2 linked regions of the Homo sapiens genome follow. The protein of the gene in region 1 interacts with the protein of each later gene in a pairwise test. Each region holds a gene or a part of one and is shown in the gene's direction. Other genes may lie near its edges.

Evidence for each region. The genes of interacting proteins can lie anywhere in the genome.
Region 2: the proteins of ALG8 (region 1) and MFSD6 interact in binary tests that used the Homo sapiens proteins (3 or more experiments, as listed by UniProt).

The regions. Positions count from the first base shown.
Region 1 is NC_000011.10:78,108,621-78,115,655, reverse strand, and holds part of ALG8 (dolichyl pyrophosphate Glc1Man9GlcNAc2 alpha-1,3-glucosyltransferase), read left to right. Parts: intron 1-857; coding exon of another isoform or gene 858-950; intron 951-1,263; coding exon 1,264-1,390; intron 1,391-1,666; coding exon 1,667-1,770; intron 1,771-2,885; coding exon 2,886-3,006; intron 3,007-6,074; coding exon 6,075-6,214; intron 6,215-7,035.
Region 2 is NC_000002.12:190,488,355-190,495,389, forward strand, and holds part of MFSD6 (major facilitator superfamily domain-containing protein 6), read left to right. Parts: intron 1-302; coding exon 303-464; intron 465-1,413; coding exon 1,414-1,512; intron 1,513-2,259; exon of another isoform or gene 2,260-2,464; coding exon of another isoform or gene 2,465-2,483; intron 2,484-7,035.

The DNA.
Region 1 (7,035 bases):
CCCAGCACTTTGGGAGGCTGAGACAGGTGGATCAGTTGAGGCCAGGAGTTTGAGACCAGCCTGGCCAACATGGTGAAACCCCATCTCTACTAAAAATACAAAAAAATTAGCCAGGCGTGGTGGTGGGCACTTGTAATCCCAGCTACTTGGGAGGCTGAGGCAGGAGAATTACTTGAACCCGGAAAGTGGAGGTTGCAGTAAACGAGACCGTGCCATTGCACTCCAGCCTGGGCAACAAGAACAAAACTCCGTCTCAAAAAAAAAGCTAGCTGGAATCACTTGCCTATGTTTTCCTTATACTGGTTATAGAATATTTACCTTGGGCCAAGCATGGCGGTTCACGCCTGTAATCCCAGCACTTTGGGAGGCCGAGGCAGGTGGATCACCTGAGGTCAGGAGTTTGAGACCAGCCTGGCCAACATGGTGAAACCCTGTCTCTACTAAAAAATACAAAAATTAGCCGGGTGTGTTGGCACACGCCTGTAGTCCCAGCTACTCGGGAGGCTGAGACAGGAGAATTGCTTGAACCGAGGAGGCGGAGGCTGCAGTGAGTCAGGATTGTGCCACTGCACTTCAGCCTGGGTAAGACAGAGGGAGACTCCATCTCAAATAAAATAAAATAAAATAAAAATTTAAAAAAGTAGGTATTGTTTATTTTTGTTATTTATTTATTCATTTTGGAGACAGGGTCTCACTCTGTCACCCAAGTTGGAGTGCAGTGTCGTCATCATGGCTCATTGCAGCCTCCACCTCCTGGGCTAAAGCAGATTCTCTCACCTCAGCCTCCAGAGTAGCTGGTGCTACAGGTGCAAGCCATCACGCCTAGCTAATTTTTTTTATTTTTTATTTTTTTGTAGAGACAGGGCCTCCCTATTTTGTCCAGGCTGGTCTTGAACTCCTGGGGTCAAGCAATCCTTCCACGTCGGCTTACCAAAGTGCTGGGATTGCAGGTGTGAGTCACCACACTTAGCCTAATTTTAGTTTTTTAAATAACCTTTTTGTAGGATAATTTTAGCTTTCCAGAAAAGTTGTAGAAATAGTACAGAGAGTTCCTATATATCCCTCACCCATTTTCCCCCATTACCACCTTACATAACCATGGTACATTCATCAAGACTAAGAAAGCAATATTGATGCATTTGAATTTCACCCGTTTTTCCTTTAATGTCCTTGTTCTGTTCCAGGATTCAATCTAGAATACCACATTATTGCATTTCATTTACCCTGAATTTTAAAGTGATATTTCCCTTTTAAATCTCCTAGAAAAGGCATATGGAAGGAGCATTTCTCTTTGCTGTTCTCCTACATTTCAAGCATATCTACCTCTATGTAGCACCAGCTTATGGTGTATATCTGCTGCGATCCTACTGTTTCACTGCAAATAAACCAGGCAAGTTTTGGTAATAATAGCAAAAACATTTTCGATTTTTCCCTTACTGTGTTGACTTGGTGGCTTGCTTGATAAGAAGGTTTTATGAAGCACAGCAGATATCTCAGCTGCTAATCCTGTAAGCCCTTTACCCATTCTCGCTTTTCTCTGCTCTTGCCACATCATGAATAGATTGGTATACTATTGTGGGATACTTCTAGTTTTAGCACATGATATAGGTTATGGTTAATGTTCCTTTCCATCTTCCTGGTTACTGATAATGTTCCTTTTCTGTAGATGGGTCTATTCGATGGAAGAGTTTCAGCTTTGTTCGTGTTATTTCCCTGGGACTGGTTGTTTTCTTAGTTTCTGCTCTTTCATTGGGTCCTTTCCTGGCCTTGGTAAGCCTTTTTTTTTTTTTTTTTCAATTAATACATGTTCTTTGTTGGTGTTTAGAAAACCTAATAAAGCCAGGAATATGTAAAATAAGTAAAAGCTACTTTTTTCTTACTCCTTACCCAACGTGACTCCCCAAAGATAGGGCAGTATTCCTTTTTTTTTTTTGTTTTTGTTTAAGATGGAGTCTCACTGTGTCGCCCAGGCTGGAATGCAGTGGCGTGATCTCGGCTCACTGCAACCTCCACCTCCTGGATTCAAGCGATTCTCCTGTCTCAGCCTCCTGAGTAGGTGGGATTACAGGCACATGCCACCATGCCTGGCTAATTTTTGTATTTTTAGTAGAGACAGGGTTTCAACATGTTGGTCAGGCTGGACTCGAACTTCTGACCTCAGGTGATCCACCTGCCTCAGCCTCCCAACGTGCTGGGATTAAAGGCATGAGCCACCGCTCTTGGCCCGATAAGGTAGTATTCTTTCAGACATTTTTGTGCACATTCAAATATGTATATATATATACATGTATATGTTTAACTGTACATTACACATACACAAACACAGAATTGATCTTCATTATTTGTGTATTCTGTACTTGTAAGTTTACTTACTTGATAAAATGTATTTGTAACAAAATCAATAATTTTGCAGTCTTACATGGACAGCAGACATTCTAAAGTGCATAGAATTTAACAGATGTTCAGATGTTTTCTTTCTTCCTCTTCTTCCCTGCCCTGAAATCAACTAATTAATTTTAATTCTTACTAAAACTGAAACGCGTCACATCTTTTGTAGTTTCCCAGCTCTCCCCTTCACCCTAGTAGACATGGATAAGCTGCAGTCTGTGTTCTGCTTTGTAGCTTGTAAATTCTTCTGTTATTATAATAGTATGGACGGGTATTCAGAGTATTTTTATGTATATTGTCCCACTGGACAGTGGACAAAGTGAGACCAAAAGAAGGTTCTGTGAACTTACATTGTGGTGAGCATATAACCACTTACTTACTAGAACCCAGACCCCATAACTTTCTACACACTATACCATAGAGAGTTCCCTAGTTCTCTTTTTGAATTTGAAAAAGATTGATGACTGTTTAATCAGTTTCATTTCTCTTTTCAACAGAATCAGCTGCCTCAAGTCTTTTCCCGACTCTTTCCTTTCAAGAGGGGCCTCTGTCATGCATATTGGGCTCCAAACTTCTGGGCTTTGTACAATGCTTTGGACAAAGTGCTGTCTGTCATCGGTATGGTAGCGAGCATTTTTTACTCAGACTCTGAATATTGAAAGGACTTAGGCACATGGAGAAATGGAAAAACCTTTGTGTTTTGAATGTGGCTGAATTGTTTGTTCTCCAGTCCTGCATTTCAGCTTTCAGGATGAACAGGGGGAGCAGTTCTTGGGACTGAGGCTTTAGTGCAGTAAACAGACTGTTTTCCTTATAAAAGCTCCTTGTGGTAATGAGGTTATTGATCCTTTCCTGGGGAAAAAATAAAATATGTAGACACTCTATAAAGGTAATTTTTGCCTTAATTAAAAAACTATTCAGCAGCAGCAGTTAACCCTGCTTTTTTTCCCCCCTTCTCACCATTCCTATTCAAACCCCTACTTATTTTTAGAGACAGGGTCTCACTGTCACCCAGGATGGAGTGCAATGGTGTTGAGATCATAGTGCACTGCAGCCTTAAATTCCTGGGCTCAAACAGTCCTCTTGTCTCAGCCTCCTGAGTTGCTGGGACCACAGGTGCATACCACCACACCTGGCTGATTTTTAAATTTTTGTTTTTTAGAGATGAGGGTCTCACTATGTTGCCCAGAGTGGGATCAAACTTCTGGTCTCAAATGATCCTCCCACCTTGGCTTCCCAAAGTGCTGGGATTACCAGCACAAGCCACCATGCCTGGCCTACCCCACTTTTAAACCTAAACATACAAGAAAGAAGAATATGTAAGTTGTGACTCTCGGTATTAAACCAGTAAGGAAAATAACCCTGCATTTTAACATGAGGTGAGAAGAAATGAAAAACCCAGGCTATGGTTTTTAAAATTGGGTCGTAATGAAAAATAAGTTATGGTTTGAGATGGTTCTACTAAAAATAACTCACTCTGGATAACACAGTCTCTCATTTGTGAATACAATCTAGCTTGGTGGGAAAATGGCATGATCAAGAGTGGTGGTCAGCAAACTTTTTCTGTAACTGGCCAGATAATATTTTAAGCTATGCAGGCCACACACAGTGTGTGTGTGTGTATGTGTGTCTGTGTCTGTATTTGTGTATGCACACATTTGTTTAAAACCTTATAAAAGTAAAAACCATTCATACTTCAGTGCTGTGCAAAAACTGGGCACAGGCTACATTTGGCTGTTGGCCTATAGTTTGTGGACTCCAGACCTAGAGTCTGATGACTTGGTTTGGAGGCTCACCTGTGTAAATTGCTATTGCAGTGTGTGGCATTGACAAGTCATTTGCTTCCTTTCGTCTAACTTTCCTCACTATACGAAAGACATACTAGTACTTTACCTGTACCTATACAGTGTGTTGTGAGGAACAGAAGCAAAATTTAAAAAGTACTAGGTTATCAGTAGCAGAGACTTTGGAGCCAGACAAACCTGAGTTCAGTTTTACCACCTATTAGTTGTGTGACTTTGGGCAGGTTACTCCATCTCTGTACCTCAGGGGGCTAAAAGTAGTAAGTGCAGAGCCCTGGGCACATGGTAGACGCTCCATGCATGGTGGCCACTATTACTGTTTTTGATAAGTACTTGGAGGAGATCATACACTGCCTATGTGATGACTTATACATTGTGTCACCGTGTTGCTCACTGTGAATCTAGCCTTGATGTACATGGCATTCTTACAGAGTAATTCCTAACATTCATATTTCAAAAAAAGCTTTAAACAGCCAGCATAGTATGAGGTACAAGGGCCAGTTGCCTTGTCTGAGTCAGGAAGCTGTACTGTACCCTCACTTGTATGTTTGTGTCTTTGAAGATGTTTTACATGGAAAGTCAGTGTCAGAGTTAGACAACTTTGTTTTAGGGAGATAGTTATTAGCTGTAAGAGAGAATCAGCAGGCCAAAGGGGAAAGGGGAAGAGGTTAGTAAGTAGAAAATATTTTGGTACATCTTTCCCACATTGTATTCATTTTCACTGGCATTTGACAGGCCCTATAGGTGCTCAAACTGTCTCTGACTGTCCTATTAGCCAGAGCTTGTTGGGGCTTGTATTGTCATTCTCTGAATTGATTTATTTAATAACCAAGTATTTATTGAGCTCCTATGTACTGGGGATAGAAATGAACTCATCATCATTCCTGCCTTCAAGGAATACAGTATAGTAGAGGAAATGAGCACATAAACAAGTGCAGTGCCTTGTGGTGAACACTGTTAGAGTGAGCTCACTCAGCTGTGCACGTTGGCTCAGGCCTGTAATCCTAGCACTTTGGGAGGCTGAGATGGGCGGATCACCTGAAGTCAGGAGCTCGAGACCAGCCTGGCCAACATGGTGACACCCCGTCTCTACTAAAAATACAAAAATTAGCCGGGCATGGTGGCACATGCCTGTAATCCCAGTTAATGGGGAGGCTGAGGCAGGAGAATCGCTGGAACCTGGAACCTGGGAGGCAGAGGCTGCAGTGAGCTGAGATTGCGCCACTGCATTCCAGCCTCTGTCTCTGGGTGACAGAGTAAGACTCCATCTCAAAAAAAAAAAGTGAGCTCACAAGAAAATCAGTTCTGCTTATTGATTTAGGAGCTTTCTCAGGTGATTGAATTAGAAGTTAATTTGGCAAAGGGAGTTGCCTGGGCAGAGGGACACAGGTGTTGAGAGTGGTATATTGAGGACTCACAGTTACTTCATTGTGGCCAAGCCGCATTTAACAAAGTAAAGATGAGATTGAACAGGGGGGAAGGGGCGATGAGATCATGGAAGACACTGGATACTATGTTTAGGAATAGAGGGTTTCTCCCATAGGAGATGAAGGATTCAAAGTTCCTTCATGACATGCTCAGACTGTTCTAGAAGCTTGCTTTCAGAGGTGAGAGCAGATTACCATTTGTGCTGCCTGCCAGCAAGTTTCCTATAAGCTGCACAAATTCCCTGTTCCAATGCAAAGAGCTGCTTTATATATTATAATCTTAAGACCAGAGGCATTTTGGGTAGAATAGTATAGGATTAAATTCATGAAATCTTAGCCTTTAAGCAGCAATAAGATTTAGTAGCTTACTTTTTATTCCTCAAGGAATTGATTGTTAATATATGGTATCTCAGTAATAAAGATAAAAATAAAACAAAACAAAATATCTGTTTAATAGGTTTGAAATTGAAATTTCTTGATCCCAACAATATTCCCAAGGCCTCAATGACAAGTGGTTTGGTTCAGCAGTTCCAACACACAGTCCTTCCCTCAGTGACTCCCTTGGCAACCCTCATCTGCACACTGATTGCCATATTGGTAAGAACTCAACAGATGGTGCTCATTTCTTGAGTTTTCTCTGCTTTTCTTTTGTCTGGCTGATTAAATTTCAACTTTCAAGCTCTTCCAACTGTAGGATAAATTTCATGCCTGTAATCCTTCTGCAGATTGAAGCATTTCCTAGCAATTCTTAGAGTAACTTTGAATACCATAAGGAAGGATTACCAGTAAAGCCTTTGTGAGAGATTCTTGCCAGTGGCTGTTAGACCATCTGTTCACCCGGGGGAAGGGAAAAAGAAAAGCCCAGAGAGGAAGAGGCATGGATCATGCTGCAGAGAAAGAAGGAAATGTTTGTGGCAGGGACATCCAGATTTGGTTTGTTTTTCTCACCGTTAGCTAAATCATCAAAATTCCAAATGTATCTGGACAGCGTGGATGTTTTGTCTTGATGGTGATAATGAGTTGAGAGAGTCGACAAAGGCTTTTTGAGCCTAAGATGAGCCTAATATGAGTAAGATGCTCTTAGAGGCCTCATTCTAAGTACTTTAGAAACTTTAATTTCTAAAATTTCATTAGTGATTGCAGTGACCTCAATTTCATGGTATAATTTTAGTAGAATTCAATATAAACAACTCAATCCTATCGATAATTACACTCATCTTTAATTTTGGTTTCTGAATGTTTCAAACCTGCTAGCAACCACCTGATTCCACTTAATTACATGACAGTACAGGTATGTAGATAATTAAGCTCTGTTGGGCTGTTTGTTCACATATTTTAATTGAGGTAAAACATTTTTCCTAAAATTTCAGCCTTATGAGGTACATATAGTTTCTATGGCCTTCCAGCCAATAAAACTA
Region 2 (7,035 bases), on another chromosome or scaffold:
TGGTGGTTGTCAGGGGATGGGACAAGGGGTGAGTGTAAGTTATGGTTTAAGGGGTACAGAATTTTTGTTGTGGTGGTGAAAAAGTTCTGGAGATGGATGGTGGTGACAGCTGCACAACACTGTGAGTGTACTCAGTGCCACTGAACCGTACATTTAAAAATGTGAAAATGGTAAATTTTTAATGTATGTTTTCCCACAACAAATCTTAAAAATAGGTGCCTAGTTAAATAATTCACATTTCAAAACAGAGTAGCCTAAGAAATGCTAACCAACTAATCCCTCCTGCTCTTCTTCCTCTCCAGGAGTGACACACGCGGCCATCTGGGCAGCATGCATTTCTTACCTCAGTGCAGCCGTTCCCCCTGAGCTGAGGACATCTGCTCAGGGCATCCTGCAGGGCCTTCACCTGGGTTTGGGAAGAGGATGTGGTGCCATGATCGGAGGCGTGTTAGTCAATTATTTTGGTAAGAATGGCTTTCTCCTTTTTTTTCTTTTCTATTATTAAAACATGATTTTTTCCAGCAATACCTCAATAAACAATCCAATTATTACTGAAGATTGCCCAAAGCTAAATTCCAGTATTCATAATCTCTTTCTAGATTTCATGGTAGTCATAATTGTAAAGCAGTGTGCTTACGTTGTTAAGCTGATCTGAGCCAGCCTGTAACTGTGCACACTCCTCTGACAATCAGCTTAATGAGATGCTACAGAGATCCCTCAAAGGAGCCAAACAAATGAATTAGCATGAGTGCTTTTGGTCTAAAATAAGGTACCTTAAACCTGCTGATAATAACCCTAAAGGAAATAAAATTCATCATTGTTATTCCATTAGGAGATTTTGAACCAGAAGAATCTAACCATATGCTGGCTTTGGTAATGCTACTACATTTATGGTAACAATATCTGTCTGTCTTGTCATATCTTCCTTATTAGAAACATAGGAGCTGAAATAGGAATGAGATTATTCTGCTCCAGGAATCTTAACTACTCAGTCATCTATTAATATATAAGGTGGGCCCCAGGAAATGCGTGCATTTATAGCACTATTTGAGCACTGCTGTTCCAACTACAGATTAATAGTGCTGTTAGTTAATAATTGGGTAAATGGTCTTTTCATATGAAGAGGAGAGCACCATTGAATTGTATGAGTCATGGTGAAAGGCACTGAGAGATAATCCTATATAAATGCAGTTTTATAATCGATCAATGACAGATCCAATATCAGCCCTGGGTCTCTTGACACGTACCCAGCCCTGTGTTTTTCCATTATGTGGAGCTAATACCCAACTACTTTTCTCTGGTTTGTCTCAAGCTGTGCTTCCTTTGCTTTGATCTTTAGAAAACTGATGGTTTTAGATGAGCGCTATCTGCATTTCTTGGAATTACTCTATAGAGTGCTGTTTGTTTTTATAGGGGCTGCTGCAACCTTCCGAGGAATTGGCATGGCCTGCTTGGTGATCCTACTGCTCTTTGCCCTGATCCAGTGGCTGGCAGTGCCAGATGAGGAAGAAGGTAATTATTTCCATTCTTTCTTAATATTCCTAACAGTTCAGGCCATGGGAAGTCAACAAATGCCCCGAGAAGCCTAGAAGTGGTACAGAGTATACAACAGGTCTGTTTGGCTCAATTTTCTGAGTGGCGTATCGATGAATTCATGTGGACTATTGTTAAAGAGATCCACCTACTATGCAGAAAAAATATTGTTTTAAGTAGCTTGGGGTTTTCTTGTTTTTTGTTTGTTTGTTTTCTTTTATAATACAAGGTACTAGGGAAGTATTAGTTTTCAATTTCTCTGGTATTCTAAAGGTTTTTCAAATTTAAGTCAAATACATATAAGGCTATACAGTCATTTTGCTACTAGGGATAGGGAGTGAGTGGTAATCTTCTCTATGACTTACCTTCATTTGTTAAAAAAAAAAAAAACAATGGCCGGGTGCAGTGGCTCACGCCTGTAATCCCAACACTTTGGGAGGCCGAGGCGGGTGGATCACGAGGTTAGGAGATCAAGACCATCTTGGCTAACACGGTGAAACCCCATCTCTACTAAAAATATAAAAAATTAGCCGGGCACGGTGGTGGGCGCCTGTAATCCCAGCTACTCAGGAGGCTGAGGCAGGAGAATGGCGTGAACCCAGGAGGTGGAGCTTGCAGTGAGCCGAGATAGCACCACTGCAGTCCAGCCTGGGGGAACGAGCAAGACTCCCTCTCAAAAAAAAAACAAAAAACAAAGACAAAAATGTCAAGACCTGAAATCTGAAGTTTTCTCTGAACCAGGGATGCCTTTATTAAGATTGTTCTACCAAAAGGAGGTTATATCAAATATTAATATGTAGATGAGAATGAGCTGACTCAACTTTTTATGAAAAAGGTCAACCAGGAGGATGAAAATATTTTTGCTCAGTTTTTTGGTCCCAGAACAGAGCTCATCTTCTTTGGGTGTCCTATCCTTTGCGGAGCATTAGCCTCAGGCCCCTGAAATGCTTCTGTGAAGAGAAAAACTTGCTTGTTACAGAAGCCTCAGAGACAGATTTTAATCTCAATGAGTTACTCAGAAAGAGCAATACTGTTTTTTCTTACTTTTGTTCTTTTATAATCCTAAATGGATTCTCTCTCTTACACAGCCTCAGTCCATGCCTCATGTAAAAGACCAATAAAAATAACTATCATGGCTCTCCCAAAGTTATAAGATGTAGTTAAAGTTGTATTTTGAGAAAAATGTATGGACTTGAATATCTTTGCTATTAATCACAAAAAAATTTAAAATCATTAATTAAACATTCAATGTAAGAAACATAAAAATAAGCAATCAAATTTTAACTCATCTTTGATTAGTGAGAATATGGTACTGGGTTAGTTTTTAAAATACTTGTGTTCTGGAGAGACTGTTATTGGGAAAATGGCAAGATAGGAGGCAGGATTAGGTTGCAGCTCACACTCAGGTGGACCGAGTAGCATGTGGAGACTTGCATCATGCTTTTGCTCCAGAACTACTGCAGGAATATACCAGGAAAGCTGAGAGAATACACAGACCCTCTGAAGGAAGCATATTGCTCCTGGAGGACCTGAGAGACAGGCCAAATATTGGGCTGGTATCCAGCTGAGAGACCTAAAGATGGTTCACATCACAGGACTCTATGCAGACAACCCCAGTACCAGCCTGGAGCCTGGTAGCCCTGCTGGGTGGGCTAGATCCAGAAGAGAAATGACAATCACTACAGCCTGGCTGTCAGGAAGCCACATCCCTCAGAAAACAGGGAGAGTACTACATCAAGGGAACACCCTGTGGGACAAAAGAATTGAACAGCAGCCTTGAGTGCCAGCCCTTCCCTCTGCCATAGCCTACCCAAATGAGAAGGAACCAGAACAACAATTCTAGTAATATGACAAAACAAGGTTCTTTAACCTGCCCCAACAAAATCACACTAGCACCAGCAATAGATCCAAACCAAGAAGAAATCTCTGACTTCCCTGAAAAAGAATTCAGAAGGTCCATTATTAAGTTAATCAAGGAGGCACTAGAGAAAGGTGAAGTCCAATTTAAGGAAATCAAAAAAATGATACAAGAAGTGAGGGGAGAAATCTTCAATGAGATAGATAGCATAAATAAGAAACAGTTACAACTTCAGGAAATAAAGGACACACTTACAGAAATGCAAAATGTTCTGGAAAGTCTCAGCAACAGAATCGAAGAAGCAGAAGAAAGAACTTCAGAGCTCAAAGACAAGGTTTTTGAATTAATCCAACGAAGACAAAGAAAAAAGAATTTTAAAAAATGAACAAAGCCTCCAAGAAGTTTAGGATTATGTTAAATAAACAAACCTAAGAATAATTGGAGTTCCTGAGGAAGAAGATACATCTGAAAGTATGGAAAACACATTTGATGAAATAATCAAGGAAAACTTGCTAGAGACCTAAACATCCAAATACAAGAATCCCAAAGAACACCTGGGAAATTCATTGCAAAGAGATCATTGCCTAGGCACATTGTCATCAGGCTATCTAAAGTCAAGAGGAAGGAAAGAATCTTAAGAGCTGTGAGGCAAAAGCACCAGATAACCTATAAAGGAAAACCTCTCAGATTAACAGCAGATTTCTCAGCAGAAACCCTACAAGCTAGAAGGGATTGAGGCCCTATGTTCAGCCTCATAATTAATTTCCATAAATAAATGGAAATTAAATAACCTCCTGAATTATCATTGGGTCAACAGCAAAATCAATATGGAAATTTAAAATTGAACTGAACAATAATAGTGACACAACCTATCAAAACCTCTGGGATACAGCAAAGGCAATGCTAACAAAACAAAACAATTACCAGCCAAGAATTTTGTATCCAGTGAAACTAAGCTTCATAAATAAAGGAAAGATACAGTCTTTTTCAGACAAACAAATGCTGAGAGAATTCACCACTACCAAGCCAGCACTCCAAGAACTACCAAGCCAGCACTCCAAGAACTACCAAGCCAGAACTACAAGAATTTGCCACTCACCACCAAGCCAGCACTACAAGAGCTGAAAGGAGCTCTAAATCTTGAAACAAATCCTGGAAACACATCCAAACAGAACCTCTTTAAAGCATAAATCTCACAGGACCTATAAAACAAAATACAATTAAAAAAAAAAGCAAGGTATATAGGCAACAAATAACACAATGATTGGAATAGTACCTCACATTTCAATACTAACATTGAATGTAAATGGCCTAAATGCTCCACTTAAAAGATACAGAATTGCAGAATGGATAAGAATTCACCAACCAAGTATCTGCTGCCTTCAAGAGACTCGCCTAACACATAGGAACTCACATAAATTTAAGGTAAAGGGGTGGAAAAAGACATTCCATGCAAATGGACACCAAAAGCAAGCAGAAGTAGCTATTCTTACATCAGACAAAGCAAACATAAAAGCAACAGCAGTTAAAAAAGACAAAGGGTGACATTATATAATGATAAAAGGCCTTGCCCAACAGGAAAATTTCACAATCTTCAATATACATACACCTAACACTGGAGCTCCCAAATTTATAAAACAATCACTACCAGACCTAAGTAATGAGATATACAGCAACACAATAATAGTGGGAGACGTCAGTACTCCACTGACAGCACTAGACAGGACATCAAGACAAAGTCAACAAAGAAACAATGGATTTAAACTATACCCTGGAACAAATGAACTTAACAGATATTTACAGAACATTCTACCCAACAACTGCAGAATATTCATCAGTGCATGGAACTTTCTCCAAGATAGACTATATGATAGGCCATAAAACAAGTCTCAATAAATTTAAGAAAATTGAAATTATATCAAGTACTCTCTCAGACCACAGTGGAATAAAACTGGAAATCAACTCCAAAAGGAACCTTCAAAACCATGCAAATAAATGGAAATTAAATAACCTCCTGAATTATCATTGGGTCAACAGCAAAATCAAGATGGAAATTTAAAATTGAACTGAACAATAATAGTGACACAACCTATCAAAACCTCTGGGATACAGCAAAGGCAATGCTAAGGGGAAAGGTCATAGCCTAAATGCCTACATCAAAAAGTATGAAAGAACACAAATAGACAATCTAAGGTCACACCTCAAGGAACTAGAGAAACAAGAACAAACCAAACCCAGCAGAAGAAAGGAAATAACCAAGATGAGAGAATAACTAAATGAAATTGAAGGAAAAAAAATACAAAAAATAAATGAAACAAAAAGCTGGTTGTTTGAAAAGATAAATAAAATTGATATATCATTAACAAGATTAACCAAGAAAAGAAAAGAGAAAATCCAAATAAGCTTAATTAGAAACAAAACAGGAAATATTACAACTGACACCACAGAAATACAAAAGATCATTCAAGGCTACTATTAACACCTTTACATGCATAAACTGGAAAACGCAGAGGAGATAAATTCCTTGAAAGACACAACCCTCCTAGCTTAAATCAGGAAGAATTAGAAACCCTGAACAGACAACTAAGTAGTGAGACTGAATCAGTAATAAAAAAATTGCCAACAAAAAAAAGTCCAGGACCAGATGGAGTCACAGCTGAATTCTATCAGGCATTCAAAGAAGAATTGGTACCAATCCTATTGACACTATTCCACAAGATAGAGAAAGAGGGAATCCTCCCTAAAACATTCTATGAAGCCAGTATCACCCTAATAACAAAACCAGGAAAGGACATAACAAAAAAAGAAAACTACAGACCAATATCCCTGATGAACATCAATGCAAAAATCCTTAACAAAATACTAGCTAATCGAATCCAACAGCATGTCAAAAAGATAATCCACCATGATCAACTGGGTTTCATACCAGGGATGCAGGAATGGTTTAACATATGCAAGCCAATAAATGTCTTTCACCACATAAACAGAATTAAAAACAAAAATCACATGATCATCTCAGTAGACGCAGAAAAAGCATTTGATGAAATCCAGCATCCCTTTATGATTAAAACCCTTAGCAAAATCAGCATACAAGAGACATAACACAGTGAAATAAAAGCCATTTGTGATAAACCCACAGCCAACATAATACTGAACAGGGAGAAGTTGGAAGCATTCCCTCTGAAAATTGGAACAAGACAAGGATGCCCACTCTCACCACTTCTATTCAACATAGTACTGGAAGTCCTAGCCAGAGCAGTCAGACAAGAGAAGGAAATAAAGGGCATCCAAATAGGTAAAGAGGAAGTCAAACTGTCGCTGTTTGCTGATGATAAGATTGTATACCTAGAAAACCCTAAAGACTCCTCCTAAAAGCTCTTAGAACTGATAAATGAATTCAGCAAAGTTTCAGGATACAAAATTAATGTACACAAATCAGTAGCTCTGCTGTACACCAACAGTGACCAAGATGAGAATCAAATCAAGAACCCAACACCTTTTATAATAGCTGCAAAAAATAAAGTATTTAGGAATACACCTAACCAAGGAGCTGAAAGACCTCTACAAGGAAAACTACAAAACACTGCTGAAAGAAATCATACATGACATACACAAATGGAAACATATCCCATGCTCATGGATGG